Linked DNA regions of Homo sapiens. The protein of the gene in region 3 purifies or fractionates together with the protein of the main gene of each other region. This does not show direct contact. Each region holds a gene or a part of one and is shown on either strand. Other genes may lie near its edges. The genes, in order: KLHL14, ALDH3B1 and ALG3.

Evidence for each region.
Region 1: the proteins of ALG3 (region 3) and KLHL14 purify together in Homo sapiens (affinity purification with mass spectrometry; 3 studies listed by BioGRID and IntAct, with this or other methods). This does not show direct contact.
Region 2: the proteins of ALG3 (region 3) and ALDH3B1 purify together in Homo sapiens (affinity purification with mass spectrometry; 3 studies listed by BioGRID and IntAct, with this or other methods). This does not show direct contact.

Annotation. Positions count from the first base shown.
Region 1 is NC_000018.10:32,672,062-32,679,029, forward strand, and holds the end of KLHL14 (kelch-like protein 14), read right to left. Parts: intron 5,270-6,968; coding exon 5,112-5,269; intron 2,737-5,111; coding exon 2,596-2,736; 3' UTR 612-2,595; downstream 1-611.
Region 2 is NC_000011.10:68,005,516-68,013,348, reverse strand, and holds the start of ALDH3B1 (aldehyde dehydrogenase family 3 member B1), read right to left. Parts: upstream 3,023-7,833; 5' UTR 2,957-3,022; intron 1-2,956. UniProt on the Homo sapiens protein: Oxidizes medium and long chain saturated and unsaturated fatty aldehydes generated in the plasma membrane into non-toxic fatty acids. May have a protective role against the cytotoxicity induced by lipid peroxidation.
Region 3 is NC_000003.12:184,241,722-184,246,000, forward strand, and holds the end of ALG3 (dol-P-Man:Man(5)GlcNAc(2)-PP-Dol alpha-1,3-mannosyltransferase), read right to left. Parts: intron 4,092-4,279; coding exon 3,992-4,091; intron 3,895-3,991; coding exon 3,747-3,894; intron 3,638-3,746; coding exon 3,477-3,637; intron 3,001-3,476; coding exon 2,880-3,000; intron 2,276-2,879; coding exon 2,070-2,275; intron 1,910-2,069; coding exon 1,833-1,909; intron 1,237-1,832; coding exon 1,092-1,236; intron 956-1,091; coding exon 793-955; 3' UTR 580-792; downstream 1-579. Other genes in the region: VWA5B2 (von Willebrand factor A domain-containing protein 5B2), read left to right, coding at 1-317. UniProt on the Homo sapiens protein: Dol-P-Man:Man(5)GlcNAc(2)-PP-Dol alpha-1,3-mannosyltransferase that operates in the biosynthetic pathway of dolichol-linked oligosaccharides, the glycan precursors employed in protein asparagine (N)-glycosylation.

The DNA.
Region 1 (6,968 bases), on a different chromosome or scaffold from region 3:
ATCACTAATGATAGATTTGGCTGGGAAGCATTAAAGTAAATTCCCCCCAGCTTACAGGCTTCCGAACGTAGCTCCTGATCTTACACAGCTCTTTGCCTGGAAGGCTGCCCAACTGCTACCCTTAACTGCAAGCCTTAGTTCCCCCTATGTCTCCCATAGCCCCTCTAATTGCCCTGTACAACTACTTCATCAGATCTTCAAAAGAGAATAAAATTAAATACTATGTATTTGATAATTGATTTAATTAAATGTGTGACTCACTTATTCTTTAAAAAGGGTGCAGTTATTTTTAACACAAATGGTGCTTCTAATAATGTGTATAAATATTTAGTTATTTGATCTCAGATAAGTTATGTCTTATTATAACACTCTTGTAGTGAAAACATCAGATTCCACTCATATGATTTTTAACTCACAGCATTTTCCAGAAGTATTCCATAATTTTAGCACTGTCCATACTGTATACATTTACATATTGTGAGAAAGCCAAATAACACTTGTAAATCACAGCTTCAGAACAAAAATATTTAGGCATTTACATATCACAAACCTTCAAACGGTTTAATGTAGAGATTTATACATATGTAAGTAGGATATGAGAGACAGTTGAATTAGTACATAAAGTTTTTATTTAAAGTTTTCCCCTTCCAAGCAAGCTTCATTTACACATTCTAATACTGTACAAAATTTACATTCTCTGTGACTTATTTATTCACTTTTCACTTTCTAGTAACTTATGTCTCTCTGAAATACAGAAAGCTTTACTTATAATTCTCATAAATGCTTTTATTTTGGTGAGAAATAAAAAATAAAATGCAGAACAAGTCTAAGGAAAGCAAAGGTTCTTGTACAAATTGTGACTTTTGGAAGAAACAGTGACAGTTGACAACAAAAGGTTCTGAAGCAGACCTCATTCTATTCATGATGTCAGCTGAGATTTTCCCACAGAGTACTGTAACTTTTCTTTCTATATACTCATATGTTTTAAGGAAAAAGAAATGACAGTTGATTGCACTGGATATACATATATTTATATATATATATTTTTACAACGGATCCTTTGGATCTGAACATACAAATAAATACAAAAACAACGAAGATTGCACTTTACTGTAGAAACGGCATCGGATTCCAGTATACCCATTTATCTTGACGTGCTCTGCCATGAAAGCTTATCACTAAGGCATTTTTCATCTGTGGGATTTCCCTAATTACTGTTTTGAATGACACATTTGTTGAAGGATTCAACACCATCTCTGGATGGTTAAAATATATTTTAGGCTTTTATTTACTCCTAAAGTTGTTGTTCAAGCTCTGGAGGGCTTGAAAATCGAATGTGCATTCCTGTCAGTTTTGTCCTTTTGGTTGGCCACATTGAGACTATCTCATGCTATCCTGACCTTCTGCTCCTGAATTCCTCATGCTCCTCAAGACAACTAGCAATTGCTCGCTTAACTGAGTTCAGGCATCTCTGGTGATAACAAACAAAATATGATGAATTGGGGGAATAACGATCGTAAGTCAAGTGTCTAGAGGCACCCGAAGGTGAGGAAGAGGAGAAGTATTCTGTCAGGTGCTATAATTGGCTCCTGTGGCTCTTGTAAGTTCTGTGTTTTAGAAACAGAAAGACAACTGGAATTCTACTTAATGGAAATTATTCTTTCTTTTCATCCCTGAATTCCTGAAAACAATCTCCCATTTTTTTTTATTATGGATTAAATTTGGGTCAGACATATCATCTAACAGAATCTCTAAAATAGTATTGACTGAATTTGTCAATCCTGTCTTTTGAAGTAAATAACATGTGTGTTCACTACTTATATATCACAAAATATGAAAAAGCACAAACCTCCATGAACTGAATAGTGACATAATATATTTTGTTTTAATCTTTCAGATAAAATTGAGGACACAGAAATGACGACTCTGTCTAGCCTAGAACCTATAGGGTAGAAAGCATTTATTACAAGAGCCAACATCTTTCTCTTTTCTGATCCCATGAGGTGCTGTAAGGGCAGAAGGTGTATGAAATGAAGTTGTATAGAAACGAAAATGCCTCTCTTTAATCTTACATGATTTTCAATAACAGTGTTGCCAATGGAGTCTGTGAAGTAGCCAAAGGTTAAGAGTACAGAATCAAGTGGCAATTTCTGTAATGCAGTGTATTTTGGTGGCTCAAATTTGGAATCATTCTTGAACACAATATCCCCGAAATGTCAACATAGATCACATGCAGGTAGACTACAATGCACAATACTGATCTGAGGTCTCTCTGGGGCCAGTCTTCTGTATTTTATCTTTCTCCTTTTGCAAGTTAAGATTCACATGAAGAGTTTTTGTAAAGCTGGGATAAGTTAAAACCAGTCTGAAATGGAAGAGTCTGTCACCACAGGAAGTTTGGTGCGATCTGAGTTATAGACATAGTATCTGTTCAAGAACAGGTCTCTTTCTTTTGTAGTTACTTATAAATCATCAGAAACCAAGGGTGGGTTTTGGCAGTTGTACCATTAGAATGCATTGTTCCTATTATAATAGTGATGTCACCTGCCATTGCTTCCTAGAATGTGATACTGTTCATTCCAGAGTTTCCTGGTGTTATTTGTTGTATGGTACACAAGAGGGCAGAATAACTGTCACACAGGCAGGGCCTGCCAACGGTTCTGCTACATCTCCTTCGAGTTCTGTCCAGGTTCCTTTCTCTGGACAATAGCATATTGTAGATGACTTGTAGGCCCCCTGTAATGACAGAGGAGGGAGCATTTAGAGAAGGAAGCTAGAGAAGTGCAATGGCAATGTTACTGATCATATTTATTAATATATTGAAAAGAAAATATCTGTTCTCCATTCTTGCTAAATAATTCCAAATGAAAGCAATGGATTTTAAACTGTTCTATTCCAAAGAAAAAGCTAAGATTGACAAAATTTCAAAAAAAATTTTTTTGTGTGTGTGACTAATAATAAAAGTTAAATAAATACCTAGAGGATCCTAGATGCTCAACAAATCCTAAATTGGCTGGGCCCAGTGGCTCATACCTGTAATCACAGAGCTTTGGCAGCTAGGGCGAGAGGATCACTTGAGCCCAGGGGTTTGAGACCAGCCTGGGCAACATAGCAAGACCTCATCTTTACACACACACTAAAAAAGATAAAAACAAATTGGGCATGATAGTGCACATCTGTAGTCCCAGCTGCTTGGGAGGCTAGGACAGGAGGATCGTGGTTACAATGAGCTCTGATCATGCCACTGTACTCCAGCCTAGACAACAGAGTAAGATCTTGGCTTAAAGAAAGAAATACATACATAAAAATAATATACCAAAAATAGAAGTTATCCAGCTGGTTTAAGTTAAAAAAGAAAAGAGAACAAATTTACCTTAAACATTCAAATAGTTAAGACAATTATATTTCAGATTGTTGTCTCACTTCTCCATTTTAATTTTGCTACTGTGAAGAATCAGAGCTAGGATTGAAAACCAGTTCAAAGTAAACTGGAAATGAAAGTTTGTCAACTTTCTCATATATTGATTTATTTATTTTCAAGAGGCCACATGAGAAATAAAATGTCCTTAATCTTGTTTTCTTTGTCAACTTTAGAGGCTAGTGCTTGTGTAACCTTTTCCTCCCCAAACCAAGGCAGCTTTGTGTTTATCATAGGAAAAAAACGAAAGACCCAACCAACCTAATAATTATTTTTCTAAAAATGCCCCAATGTCTGCTTCCAAACAAATACATTCTTGCAGCTAACAATTTGTACAAGCAAACAAGTGCACATATGAATATCTAGTTATATATGTCAATACATATTTGCCTATATAACTAATAATGTTTTAAAGCTCCCCAAAACTTTATGTCACAATCTTGTTAGAGGCAAAAGAAATAAAACCAAATAATATTATTAAAACCACCAAATTAATCTTACAAAACTAACACAGGTAATCAGGAAAATATAAAAATGTTCATCATTTTAAAAGTGAATATGTAATCTGCTAGACCCAATGTGTCTCCTGATGTACTGTAATTTGAACTACAAAGCCACCTTCGCAGGTGTTTTTGCTAAGAAAGAAAAAAGAAGTTAACGAAAGAAATAAATAAAGGAAAAAGAAAGAAGCTGAATTTAATTATGCCCTTATCTCTAACTTCCAGTCTCCAGAAAATATGCAGATGGAGGACTATTTCAAATGACTCCACAAGGAAGTCATTAGCCAATTTCAGAATGTAGGGTATTCTGTATAACTGAACCTCTTTTGTCAAGGAGTCAATGGCATGAAACAAAAAGAGTCAGGGTAATGTTCTAGATTGCAAGAGATATATGAGACATAATGATGAAATATAAGAAAGACTTGTTGGGTCCTGATTTGGATATGTCAATTTGAAAAATACATCTTTTTTAAAAGTCAATGGCAAATATTTGAATATAAAAATGGATATAAAGGAATTATTGTTAATTTTTTGGAGTGTGAGTGTATTTACGTAAGTTAATGATTTTTAAAAGGTAAATACTGAAGCATTTAGGGTGAAATGATATGACATCTGGGATCTACTTCATATTGCCTGAGCCAAAGATTTTAAAAGTGGGGATAGATGAAGTGTGGCAAAATGTTGATGGATGTTGAAGCTGAATGATGGGTTAATGAAGTCCCATTCTAATCTCGATTTTTGTGTATGTTTAGAAAATTTCACGATAAAGAGGGAAAATAAGGGGAAAAATCAATGGCAAATCACACATCCTAAATAGATTTCATGAATATTGGAGAATGAATTTCCATTTTTCATGCCTTACCGGTCAGAAACCTTTCAGACTCTCTTACTGAACTGCAGAACATTTGTAAAATCACCTCAGTTTGACTTTCAGTTGGGAAGCCAGAATCACAAGGTCATAGAGACAGGAGAGAAGGGAGACCTACTGCACCTTGTGATGCTGTTGATCAGCTAGCAAGCCAGTTCAACAGCCACCAGGCTGATCCTATTTTACTATCTAAAGCAACTGACTGCTTGCATGTAAGTATGATACTCTTAAAAGGTACATGTGTGGAGGATAACACATTTGGAAGGATACAGAAAACGTAAGCACAAACGAAATAAAGGAGGATGCAGTAAATGTGGACACATACCATACTCCAGCTGTAGCCTCCCACAAGGTAAATGCTGTCATCAAGCACTGCACAGCCAGGGCCACTTCGACCCTCCAAAATGGGAGTTTGGAGTATATTCCACTGGTCACCTTTTGGGTCATAGCATTCCACAAGCATTACATCAAGGTGGGAGAAACCTAAGTGACAGAACAAAGTGGAACAACAAAATGATAAATGCTCAGGGTCCCAATTTAAGGCTAGGGCTTCTTTTAAAAACAAGTCTCAAGCCAAAATAGATAATTATGTTTTTGAAGACACAAATGCATAAATTCACTGAGATTGGGAGAAATGTCAGAAAGACCTAGAAAACCCCAAAGAAACTCTAGTTGTTTTAGATTACTTCAAAGCAAGAATGCCTGAGCAGATGTCATTAGCAAAGGTTGATTATATGTGGATAGATCTTATTAAAATGGTTTATTAAAACCTTATTTAAAAATGTTTAAAATAATAGTTTAAGCAAGCATTGTACAAGGCACTTACAATATGCTAGTTTTCTTTTCTAAGGGCTTTATTTAAATGAACTCATTCAATCCCTTCCATCACTCTATGAGATAGTCCCTGTCCTCACTTTCATTTTATAGATAAGGGAACTGAGAGACAGAGAAAGTCAATTACTTGAGTAAGTCACAAGTCAGTAAGTAGATAGGTTGAGATTTGAATCCAGGAGAGGCTTCAGAACTCAGACTCTTGCAGACTAAATTGTATTGCTTTTTCTCAAATGAATATTTAACTCTCTCAGAATGTTTTAATAGATTAAAAATATGTTGTTCAGCATCTTTTACCTTTTCCACAATTTGACTATGTTTATAAACAACTCTGATGATGTAAATCGTTTCTAGTATTTACCAAGAATCAAGGTTTAGAGTAGAAGGCTGAGTAACTTTCACTGAAGAGCTTCTCCTACAGCTTCTGATAGGGTTCTTGGTGTCTGGGGCACTACCTAGGTCACTGAGAACAACTTAAGTTCCTGGTCTCTACTGGAGCCCTGCCTTTAATTTAGAGGGTGAGAAACACCTAGTGGGAGCTTCGTGCTCACCAAGCAGGTCAAACCCTTAATGTTTTTATCTATTTTTCCCGTAGTTAAATGCAGGCTATGGATATTTGCTAGCTGACAATCTCAGTGTGTATTCTAAAGTAACCAACATACTGGATTCTTTAAAATAATTGAGAAGATGAATAAAAAGGTGGAGAAATTTTTGTTCTTGAAGAGGTAGACAGGTTATTTCGGTTACTAACTTCCTACAGAAAATAAATCCCATAGATGGTGGAACAACAGAACAATGTACTCACTGCAACACCAGAGTATATTCCTTTCCTTTACCATTAATATTATTGATTATAATTTTTGAAGCATATACACTTAGAATGAGCACTTGGGCAAATTCCAGGTTCTGACCTTGGAGGCATCATTTGAAGATATATGTGCCTTCTCTGTGACAATGTTATACATGGGAACTGTAATCCTCACAGAAACCATCAAGGCAAGGATAATTATCCTTCCTTTACAGACATGAGGTTAAGTGTCTTGAGTGAGACCACACAACTAGAAAGTGCATAACTAGAATCAAACCTAGGCTTAGATACAATGTCTATATCCTCTCCTCACCATGATGCCTCCTTGAGCTAACCCAGTTTTGATGTGTGCACACTATTTCTCATTTAGATTGTCATTACCTGAGTCTTTCTGTCCAAACCTAACCTTAAATGTTAGAAGATCCTAGAGCATTTAGACAATATCTTGTGCAAAAGAAATGCAAAGAAATCACATTTTAACATAGAAGGATACAAAGTTAATACAAAACATGTCGACGTAAAGGAATGGTGTGTGGCTTGAAA
Region 2 (7,833 bases), on a different chromosome or scaffold from region 3:
TGTGGGGGATGGAGTTCTGCAGGGAACATTCCAGCAACCCTCCTAGCAACGCTGAAACCAACTCACCAGGGCCACAGGACACATCTCTCCCACAGGGCAACCAGCCCTGGCATTGCCCCTACGGGTCACTCACTCTGGACTGAGGCCCCCAGGGAGTGCCCAGGGCAGGACCCTGGCAAGCGGAGAAGCCAAGGCCGCCTTCTGCCTGAGATTGGGGGGATCCTGGGCCTGTTATCTCCCGAGGGTGCTGGGCAGCCATTGTGGACACACAGAATAGGGAACTCCTGAATCAGGCACTGGGCTGGGGTCCCCCAAGCCCACCCCCGCGGCACTCATCCCACAGTGTGAGGTTGTAAGGAGTGTGATCCCCATGCCTGCCCTCGCTCATTTCACCACCACGGCCGCCCACTGAGGGACCACTATTCACCCCACTGAAGGAGATGGAGGCTGAGGCTCAGAGAGGGCCAGAGCTTGCCTGATACCACCCAGCTCCTCACATTGGAAAACCCAAATCCAGAAGAGCAGAAGGCTATCCACCTCAGCTCCCACCTCCCTCACAGTCCCCTGGGGATGGGCAGCCAAGTCCTTGGGGGAAGGGACACTGGGCTGGGGCCTGGACGGCAGACCCAAGGCTGGGTGGACTCCGGTAGGCCAGCTGTGGGAGGGGTGACCGGTGAGGGGAGGTCTCTTGCTGTTTGGATTCCATTTCCTCGGCCTCCCTCCTCACTATTGCTGCCACTCCCCACACTGCTTAGGTTGTGGGGTCTGAGACTGCCTCTTGCCTCCTGCGGCTGAGCCACTGAGGTCCAGGGGCTGATGGGCCCAAGGGTCTCTGGGGCGTGGCCCCCCATCACAGGTTGAGGTGCATTTGGCCCAGACCTGCAGCTTCTGGGGTGGGGGGGAGTTGCCACATCATTTGGTGATGAAGATAGCGGCTGTTTCCTCTGGCCTGGGGGCCAGGGCAGGACCAGCCACTTCCTCTCAAGGCCACGGGCCTCTAAAAACAATACTCAGGTGCCCATGTGCTGGGCACTATGCCAGCCTGGGTGCTCGCTGTGGGTGCCCACAGGCTCCGGGAACAGAGTGGGGAGGAACGGGGCTGACATATCACAGGGAGTGAATGGCTGGCCGAGCCGCTGCCCCCAACCTCACAGCAGGGACCGTCCCTGGGCAGGGACTCCCTGCTCGTTCACACCCTGGCCTATCAAGTGGGTTGGATTCCAGGGAAACGGAGGCTCTGCCCGTTCTCTCATTCTTCCTGCCTCAGTTTCCTCATCTACACCATGGGCCTTCTAAGAGCATCCTCCCAGCATGGCATGGTCTGGGGGCCCAATGACCTGGGTTTAAACTGCAGCAACCACATGTGTGAGTGGGGAGACCTTGGGCAGGTTGCTTGACCTCTTTGTATTCACGTTTCCCATCTGTAAAATTGGGCACTGCCTGTGGCACCCATACCACTGTCGGGAGAATTCAAGCACTGGGACCCCGGGAAGTGCTCAGTATCCATGGAGGACGGATGTACCAGAGGAGGGCTCAGGGAGGAGACCCCTGGGGCAGGGGCCTGAAGGGGCCTTGATCCAAGGTGGGTGTTGGGGAGACAAGGACATCACCCTGAGACCCAACTGAGGACAGGGATGTGGTGACAGAGGGACTGAACATGGTGGGTAGAGGGCCTGGGGGACCCCCATCAGGGCAGCCAGAAGGCGGGGATCACTAGGCCAACTTCAGGGGACCCACAGGCCCAATACCGCAGGGTCTCCGATTCTGATCTCCTGCAGTGTAGCTTCATTAAACAAACATGATGAGAGGCTGTGATTTTGAACTGAGCTCCTGTACTAGGCCCCAACAGACCAGACCAAACCAAAATGGAGGCACTCATGCCAAATGCCACATCATCAAACCGAAGCTTTAAGGAAGCAGACAGAGCCCAAAACCACAGACCAGTTTCTCCGGGAAGCAGGAGATTCCAGTCCACCTGAGCCGGCATCATCAGGTCCCCTCTGCCTTACCCCTTAGAAAAAAGCAGTCCGCTTAGAAAAAAGCAGTCTGCAGCGATCCGGTATTAGGCGGTTTGGTGTTTCCTATTTTTCTGTTTCCTCCTTTCTGCCTTATGAACCCCCTGCTCTGCCACTGCCTGGTGGGAGCTCTCACTCCATTTTGTAGAATGGAGGCTGTCCGGATTCACGAATCATGAATAGAAGCCAATTTGATCTATAACTAAATGTGTTGTCATTTTGTCTTTTGATGGCCTTAAGCTGGATTTTCATGAGGCCTCCCAAAGCTCAGCAGCCCCTCCCTTGGGGAGCCAGGGACCAGCGTATCCCCTCATTGGTGGCTCGGGCCAACCCAGCCCCGGGTCACAAAGAGGCTGAACAGCCTCGGCTCCCTGATGGGGCACAGTTCCCGGGATGAGAAGTGCCTCCTGCAGGCGGGGCGGGGCTGGCTGGCCACTCCTTTCTTGGACCCTGACAAAGTCCATTGCTAAGAATGATTCTTTCCCAGAGTCATTCATGGCCACATCCCTGCATCAGCACTGGGCATGCAGGCTGGTGCCCAGGAAACGGCTGTTGCTGGAAGGGATACTTGACCCCTGTGGGGAAGGGGCGCACAGTCCTTCCTGGGGCAGCTGGACCCAGAGCTGTTCCCTTGGTTCCCTTGGAGGGTGTCCGGGAATCCCAGGAAAAGGAGGCGGTGGCAACCCAGCTCGGACAACGGAAGGGTGCCTGCTGGCCAGGGGGGTGCCCGGGACCTCGCTGCCACTCCCCAGATCTGCCTCTCCTCCTTCCGCTTTCTCCCCCAGCAGGCAGGCAGATGAGCTCAGCCAGGACACAGTGGCCTCTGAGTGCAGCTGCCGGTGGCTAGGCCCGCCTGGGCTGCCTGTAACCCGGAGTTGCTGAGCTGGACTCTGGCCCGACTGCTGGCCCACTACAGCCCCAGCCTCCCCGGGATACTCTACCTGAGGCTCTGCCAAGCTGCCCTTCCTCCTGGCTGTCCCGCTCTGCCTGGTGGCCCTGCTGTTAAGAAATGTCCAACGCAGGGCCAGTCCCCGGGGGAGGGGTGGGGCGGAGTTGCCCTAGCCTCGTGCCTGACTCTGGCTCTGGGCGGGCTGGAGGCTGCAAGCCAAGATTTCACCACCGCCTCCCTCGGGGGCCTCGACATCTCCTCCCAGACCACAGAGAAGAAGTCAACGCCCAGAGGGCGCCAGGCTAGAGCCACACAGCAGGGCTGAGCTCCGAGCTGAGGGGCAGCCTGAGGAGGAGGAGGAGAGGCTGTGCAGCAGGGCTGAGCACTGAGCTGAGGGCCAGCCTGAGGAGGAGGAGTGGGGCAGTGGGCCCTGGGAATCCCGGTGTGGGGTGGGGAACTATTATTGTATTAATTATATTCTATTATAATATTATGTGGAATGTTATGGCCCAGAATAGCAAGGAAGTCTCGACCCCCCACTCCCAGCCTTCCCTCAATGCCTCCCCTAAGGAATAAGACCACTACTACTCCTGCTGCCCTCCTCCTACCACCTTGCCTGGTTTACAAGACAGGAGGAAAGAGAGAAGGCAAAAAGTTAGAAAAAAACAGAAGTAAGAGAAATAGCCAGAAGACCTTGGCGCCACCACCTGGCCCTGGTAGTTAAAAAAAAGTGATAATAATATCAACCCCTGACCTAAACTACTTGTGTTATCTGTAAATTCCAGACATTGTATGAGAAAGCACTGCAAAACTTTCTGTTCTGTTAGCTGACGCATGCAGCCCCCGGTCACGTTCCCCGAGCTTGCTCGATTTATCACGACCCTTTCACGTGGACCCCTTAAAGTTGTAAGCCTTTAAAAAGGCCAAGAATGTCTTTTTCAGGGAGCTCGGCTCTTGACGCAAGTCTGCTGATGCTCCCAGCTGAATAAACCTCTTCCTTCTTTAATCCAGTGTCTGAGGTGTTTTGTCTGTGGCTTGTCTTGCTACACCCTACCCAAGACTCAGTTTCCCCTTCTGCAAAACAAAGAGGTCAGACCCAAAGGTGGCTGGAGTCTAGAAATACCATCTTAGGGACCATACCTCATGCCTGCTCCTCTCCCAGCGCCCTGTGCTTCCGTGTTCCTCCACACCACCCCATGGGCCGCCCCATTCATAGAGCCTGTCTTTCTGCAGATCTAACATTTTACAAACGAGGAAGTGGGGGCAGAGAGGGGGTGGGATGTGAACATGGGGCGTGTGTGTGGCAGAGCTTCTTGCTCCAGAGCTGGGGCTGCACCCGTTTCGGATGTCCCCTCTGCCTCCCAGGAGGAGTGCCTGCCTCTCTGCTTAGGACCGTGGTCATGATGCCACGTGTCGCCTTGGTGGTTCCTGTAGTCCCGATCTTCCTCAAGTTCGGCACAGGCAGCTGTGCCTAAGCCTGTCCCTGCCTGCCCCCAGCCCGCCCCGGATACACCTGTCAGAGCCAGCGTGCTGTGGGGATGATGTGCAAGCTGCTGTGGGTGTGGACAGGCAGGGGACAGGGTGACAGGTGTGGAGGAAGAGCCTCCTCTATGCCCCTTCCTGGGCCTGCCGCTGCTACCATCTCCCTGGTGCCCTGGGCCTCCGTAGCTCCCGGCCCCGGGGCCTCTGGGCCAACGTGGCACCTGGGAGGTGCTCATCATGGCCCCCCCCACCCGCCAGCTCCCTGCCTACCTGGGAGGGCGGTGAGGTCTTCTGGACCATGCCCACACCGGTGGCCCGTGATTAGATAGTTAGGGTGGGGGTGAAGGACTGCAGAGCCCCTGTCCTCTGTGTGGGATGGAGCCCCCAGCCACTGCCAGTCACGTGGCTCAGCATGTGACAGCCCAGCCCTGCCATTCTCTGGAGCTCAGCCAGATTGAGCGGGTGCCAGGCAGGGCTGGGCAGGGGCTGAGCCTGTAGGTCTCAGCTGGGAGTGAGGCCCAGAGAGGGCAGCCACTGGTCTAAGGCCACACAGCAAATCAGGGACCCATCTTGGCGGGTACTGGCAGGTGGGAGGGGTGTTTCAGGATCCCGAGGGTCCCCTCCCTGGCCAGGGAGCTGTTGAAGAATTTCCCCCAACTCACAGGGGCCGAACTTGTCATGAATGCAGGAGCAACCTGGGAGGAGGCCCCCGAAGAGGCCTGTCCTCCCGGGACAGAACTCCTAGCCTTCCCTGGGAGTGAGGCTCCCCCCAAGGGAGGCCACACACCTCCCAGGAGGGCTGGGCCCTCCCCACTCTGGGTTGGGTGCCCCTCACTACTCCTCAAAGCTCCAGAGGCTCAGTAGGGCCTGGGAGTCCCATCTTTGTTGAGGAGCCCAGGGTAAATGGGGAGCCCTCTGGGTAGGGCACCAGGAGGACTCACTTTTGGAGCCAGCTCTGGGGTGAGGTCTGCCAAGGCCCAGGCCAGCCAGGGGGAGTGGGTGGAGGGGTTGCTCAGGGCTCCGGGCCAGACAGCTGCGGCCCCGCCTGCCCTGCCTCCTCCTTGCTGGGCTGACGCTTCGCCTCTTTGGGCCTCAGTGTTCCCATGTGAGAATGGGGCTGACTACAGTCCCGGGGGCATCTGTGGGTGAATGAGAGGGTTCGGCAGGCATGGATCTCAGCACCTGGCATGGAGGGCGTTAAGTGTGAGGTCTGGGCTCAAATCCTGGTCCTGTCACTTACCTGTGTGACCTAGGTTAGTGTCTTAACCCCCCGTGCCTCTGCCTTCCCATCTGTAAAATGGGACATAAGTGATTGTGAGGCTGAAACAAGTTATTCCATGCACGTGGGCCCGGAACTGTGACCATTCCAAGTGCCCGGCCCCCTCTGGAAGGGTCTGAGAGCTACCTTCCAGACTCTAGGACAGGAGTGTGGGCAGGGCATGAGCATGGCATCAGGTGGAATCATTCATCCATTCATAATTCATTCATTCATTCCCTCACTTCTCAGAAACACGCCCCTGAGCCTGGCTCACAGGGCCTCAGACCTGCCCAAGAGCATCTCACTGCCTCATCTGCCCACGAGTGACCTTGAAAAGAAACGTCCCCTCACTGGGCCTCAGTTTCCCCAGCTGTAAAATGGGGGCTGACTCTGCCTGCCTCACATGGCTACTGCGAGGGTGAAACGAGAGCCGACCTGAAGGCACCGACAGGGCACCTGGTTCTCAGTAGGCGCTCAGAGCATGTGAATGTCCTCCTGCCCCTCTCCTTGCCCTCCTGAGGAAGTGGCTGCCCCAGGCCTTGGCCCTGAGGCCCTGGCCCTGCCTCCCACCCCCTCCCTGGCAGTCTTGAAGGCTGGACCCACCCTGGCTCCTTGAAGAGGCAAAGTTAGAGGCTGTAGGGGCCCAGGGCCCAGGACACAGTCAGAACTCACGGGCAACGGTGAATGCGGGTCACTTGTTCATTTACGCACTCAACAAACCTTTACTGAGCACCTACTGTGTGCAGACACTTCACACAATTTTCACAATTCCCAGACATTATTGACCATGCTTTCCAGCTGGGCCACACAGTGACAAGGACTCATGGGGATCCACAACCAGCCTGGCCTGGCTCCCCGGCCCACGGTGCTTCCAAGGTGCCTGGAGCCCTCGCACAGGAATGGGCTGGAGTCTTCAGCTCTGGGTGAGCCCTTTGCCACCAACTCTCAGGAGCCTCAAGTCTCAGTGGAAAGCAGCAGCCACCTGGGCATTTGCTGTGCCAGGCACTGGGCAGAGCCTTTGGCACACCCCAACCTGGGGACCTCCCACCATCCTGTGAGCCAGACTCAGTGATCATCATCCCCATTGGCTTTAATGTTTAAAATATTGTGGAATCACATCCATGCCAGGGAAGTGGTGTGAAGGGAATCACGTGGGCTGCCCAGCACGCTCCTGTGTCAGTGCAATGCGGGGCAACAATATTCCAAGAGGTTGTTTCAGGGAGTTCCAGTTGAGAGCAATATTTATTCTCTTCTGCTTGCTTTTCTGCAAGGAACATCGATTATTTTCATAATGAGAACTGAAAGTAAAGGCTTATTATAGAGAAAAGCATTGGCAAACAGTGAGCACGGGGGGATCTGGCCACCCCTTCCTGGGGATGTGACTGTGCACTGTTGCAACCTGGATGGGTTGGTGGAGGTGCTGGCCCTGCTCAGATCTCTGTCCCGCAGGTCACCCTGGTGTGTTTATCTGGGCCACCCTATCAGCCTCTTAGATAGTCTCCAGGCTCCCCAAGAGCAGCTCCATAAACCACCTAAAAAAAAAAATCCTTTCTGGAGAGAGGAGGTGTATCAGTCAGGGTTTAGTGCCTCCAGGGCTGTTTTTTGTTTTTTTTGTTTTTTGTTTGTTTGTTTGTTTGAGAGGTCTCACTCTGTCACCCACGCTGGAATGCAGTGGCACAATCTCAGCTCACTGCAGCCTCATCCTCCTGGGCTCAAGCAATTCTCCCACCTCAGCCTCCTGAGTAGCTGGGGCTACAGGTGTCCACCATCACACCAGGCTAGTTTTTGTATTTTTTGTAGAGATGGGTTGGGGGGGGGGGTTTGTCTCACTTTGTTGAGGCTGGTCTTGAACTCCTGAGCTCAAGTGATCCTCCTTGGCCAGCCAAAGTGCTGGGATTGCAGGCGTGAGCCACAGCGCCCGACCCTCTCCAGGTGTTTTGAGTAGGAGACATTGAGTGCAGGGAATTGGTGGTACAGCACAGGTGATGGAAGAGCCCAGGATGGGCAACCATAGCAACCGCCACAACCCCCAGGCCCAGAGGAACAAGGGGAGGAAGAGATTGCACCAGGCCCCAGAAGTTTGGGGTCCCTCAGGGAAATTGAGAAGCTCGGGGGGCCCACTCCCAGCACTTTGGGGGCTAAGGCGGGTACATCACTTGAGGTCAGGAGTTCGAGACCAGCCTGGGCCA
Region 3 (4,279 bases):
GCCAGGTGGACAGTGGGCGGGGCTCAGACACCGAGGCCTCCGAGGGGGCGGAAGGGCTGGGCGGCACCGACCTGCGGGGCCGGACCTGGGCCACTGCCGTAGCACTCGCCTGGCTGGAGCACCGATGCGCCGCTGCCTTCGACGAGTGGGAACTGACAGCGGCCAAGGCTGATTGCTGGCTGCGGGCCCAGCACTTGCCTGACGGCCTTGACCTGGCCGCCCTCAAGGCCGCAGCCCGAGGGCTCTTCCTGCTACTGCGCCACTGGGACCAAAACCTGCAGCTACACCTGCTGTGCTACAGCCCAGCGAACGTGTGAAGGCTGCCCCCTGCTGCTTGGGCTGGCGCCCCACCCAACACACTCAAGTCACTGCCGCCCAGGGCTGGCCTCTTGGTGCTGGGAAAGTGTAGGCTGGTGCCAGCCTGTCCCCCACTGCTTCTTACTCCCTCCCTAGAGCCCTCTTGCCCCCACAAAAAGTGCCTGCCTGTGCTCTCTCCCTCTCCTCCCACCCCACTCACACTCCCCTCCATCCTCTGAGCTCCCTGCAACACAGTGGAAGGGTAGAGAGCCACAGTCCCCAAATCCTATGCAATAAAGTGCCTCTTAGGACTGCTTGAGTGAATTCTTTATCTGCTCCATACGTGTCCCTCACAGCCTGGACCAGGCATCGGCTGCCCCCACCTCCATGTAGGTTGCACAGAGTTGGACTTAGCAAGGTTTATTTGGAAGGGCAGAGTCCAACCAACCCCAGGTCCTGAGGGTAGACTCAGGTCCTGAGGGAAAGGGGTGGACTTCAGTGGGCTTTCTTGCTGTGTTGGGTGCTCTTGGGGAAAGGCTGCGGGCCCAGCCAGAGCTGCAGCAGGATGACGGCATGGCATATGTGCAGGGCAGCAGAGCTGCAGGATGTGGAAGGGTATGTGTTCCAGGAGAGCTCGATGAGCCCCAGCACCAACAACCTGGAGATGAGAAACAGGTTCCACGTTTCATCCAGTTGCAAGGCCTGCAGACCTGCAGCTCCTCATGCCCTAGACATAAACCCCCAACAGGAACTCCCTATCCCTTCCCACTCCCCCAGGTTGTCCCAGCTGGTACCTGAGCAGGTGTGTGAGCCAGCGTGCAGGCATGGCCCACAGGAGGTAGGGCAGTGTGTGGAAATACCAGACGTAGAACTGGTAGTGGAGGGAGCGGCTGAAGCAGATGCCAATGAAGTTGGAGGTGAAGAGGGTAGAAACGATCTGTATGCGGTGGTCAAGGCCAAGGGCAGGAGTGTGTGTGGGGGGGACTATCCCAAAACAGAGGGGCAATAGTTTTTAGGTCACATAGCCCTCTGGCTCTGCCATTCCTTGATGCATGCCTTTGGGCAAGTTTATTAACCTCTCTGGACCTGCTCCTCAACCAAATATGGAATATGGAGAGAGTAATACCTAGGGCCATAAGGTCTTGTGGGTTTGAACCCCTAACTTACTGGCTGTGTGACCTTGGTAAGTTACTTAACCTCATGAAGTCTTAATTTTTCCATCTGTAAAATGAGAATAGTAAATGTAAGTGTACCTCCCTGTCTCGGGGTCTCTTGTGAGCTTTCAATATTAGAACATATGTAAATCTCTTATGATAGTACCAGGGAGAAGTACTCATAAGAGTAGCTCGTATTTAGAATTAAGAATCAAATATCCTTCAATATGTGAAGTGCTCAGCACAGTGGTGCAGAATAGGACTTCTATGATTGGGGTCCCCTTTCCTCGCCCAGGTCACCAGCTGTCAAGGGATACCTGACCAGGACTCTGTCAGCACCTAGAGAGGGCAAGACTTACCTTCCCACAATTTAAAGGATATGGTTGGGTGTAAGGGGCTGGGGTGGAACCTTCCTTTTGGAGGGATCCCTCAGCAGCGACAAGATACTTTCCCCTGTCCTGGAGAAAAGCCATTCAGACAGTTATCAAGCCCCTTTTGTGAGTCAAACTCTAGACTCACCCCATGAGCTTAACTGACACTTCCCCCAAGCAGCCCCTAAGGCTTAGGCCCTTCACTCCTTCCCCCAACTCTGCCCATGGCACTACTGCCTTTTCTCACCTGTGCCACCTGCAGAGGGCAAACAGCAGGAGCAGGGTGAGGTGGGCAGTCAACAGGGCCAGGTGGAAGGCTCGATGCAGGAAGAGCGCCTCTGGGAGGAAGCGCCAGTTCACTGTCCAGTGGAACAGAAACTGGCGGCCAAGGTCAAAGGAGCGGGACAGGTAGCCGCTGGGGTTCTCCAGCAGGAAGGGCAGCCCCAGCACCACCTGAGGATTGGTGTGATGTCAGCAGAGCTGCCAAGGCTCATTCCCAATGACCAGCCTTCATGCTACTCATTGAGGGGTGTGGGACGGGGATGTAGGCCTCAGAGGTTCCCCAATTCCCACTAGAAATAGCAGGAAAACCACGTTCCCCACCCCCCGGCCCAGGCCAGTGCCTGGGGCCAAAGAAGCTCAGGAGGCAGGTCATAACAATGCTTTAAGGTGTGGATTCACCAAGTCATAACTGGGCAGAGCAAGGAAGGCTCTCAGAAGCCAGGCAGGGTGGCTCATGCCCAAAATCCTAGCGCTTTGGGAGGCCAAGGCAGGAGGATTGCTTGAGCCCAGGAGTTTGAGACCAGCCTGGGCAACCCAGCAAGAGCCCATCTCAAAACTTAAAATTAAAAAAAGCAAAAAGGCTCTCAGAGACCATCAAATTTAATACCCTATTTTACAGCTATGGAAACTACAGCCTAGCGATAGTGGCTCCCTAGCTCAGAATCAACTCCAAAACCCTGTCTCTTGGCTTTGAGGGAGTCTCAGGGATAGAGCCCCTCAATCAAGACAAGTGGCTTCTCCTTGATTAGAAAGAGGAAGGGTGAGATGGGGGTACCTGAAGGCCAGCACAGATTCCCAGCTTGGGGAGGGCCCCACGGAAGCCAAACTGTGTGAGGAGAAGAAACAGTAACCCAGGGGCGAAGAGCAGCACATTCATCTTCACAGAGACTGCCAGGCTGGGGTGAGCAGGGGAGAGGAAGGGTGGAGATCAGCTCCAGGGCCATGCACACAACACCCAAAGACATACCCCCCACCATCACCACAGCAACCTCCCCCCCGCCGCCACGCCAACAAACTCCAAGATGGGACCTACACTCACAACTGTTGGAGGGAAGAGCCTGGAGTAGGCAGGAGGCAGATACATAGTCTCTATGCCTACTAGATGCGAATGAGCATATACTGAGTATTTAGAATGTGAAGGACTAATTCCAACAAGGAATGCTGTCTGGGAGGAAGACAGGATGGAAAGAGGGCATGTGTGTATGTTGGGGGATGGCAGGGCAGAAACTTTCTATAGATCCTGGACTCGCTTTGTGGAGCCCTGAGTGACCCATGCTGTCTTGGCTACTCCTTTACTCCCTCTGCTGCAGGAAATTGGGAAGAGATGGAAATGCAGAAAACGAGAGGGGACCAGAAAGGAAGAGGTGTTGACCTGAAAAAGCAGCAACCCCAGCCCCAGCGCTGGGCCAGCAGGAGGTTGATACTGAGGAAGAGCAGCACCATGGCCACTGGGTCATTGAAGAGCCGCAGCACAAAGATGGAGTGGACACGGTAAGAGGCGCAGCACATGAAGAAAAAGACGAAGGGAGGTACCTAAAGGGAAAACACAGTAAGGTACAAGGTCAGCTCAGCAAGCCTGAGCCATCCCCACCACCCAGCCCTCCCAGGCTGGGGCCCTCTAGCCCTGGTAGCATGGACTCACCTTGCAGGTCTGGTGATAGATCAAGAAGACAAGCAGCAAGGTAGCCAGGTAGAGCACAGCAAAGATGTTCTGGGCCATGCGGATGTCAGTGCCTCGGCTGGTGGCATAGTACAACCCCATAAAGATGTACACGAAACCAGCTGGGTACCTGGAAGATGAGAGAAAATGTGAGCCTGGGTCAGGTCACACAGACTAGTACCTAACCAGCCCCTCACATCCTCCCTGAACTTCCTGTCCCCACTCACACAAGTGGTCCGGTGTCACCCTGCAGTTGGGTATAGTCATAGGTACCATTGATGACGCCTTCTACCTCGGCCATGTAGGCCTTCCAGTCAATCTCTGTGTCTGGAAGAAGACAAGATGATCTGGTTACTTCTGAGTCTAGAACTTGTCTGCCACCCTCCCCATGCCTCCAGACCATCAAAACACAGACTTTCAGCCAATTCCCAGGGCTTTACTACCTCTTAATCTAACTCTTTATCTGACATTCTCTGGGTGAGCCCAGGCATCTCAAACTCAACATTTCTATAAGT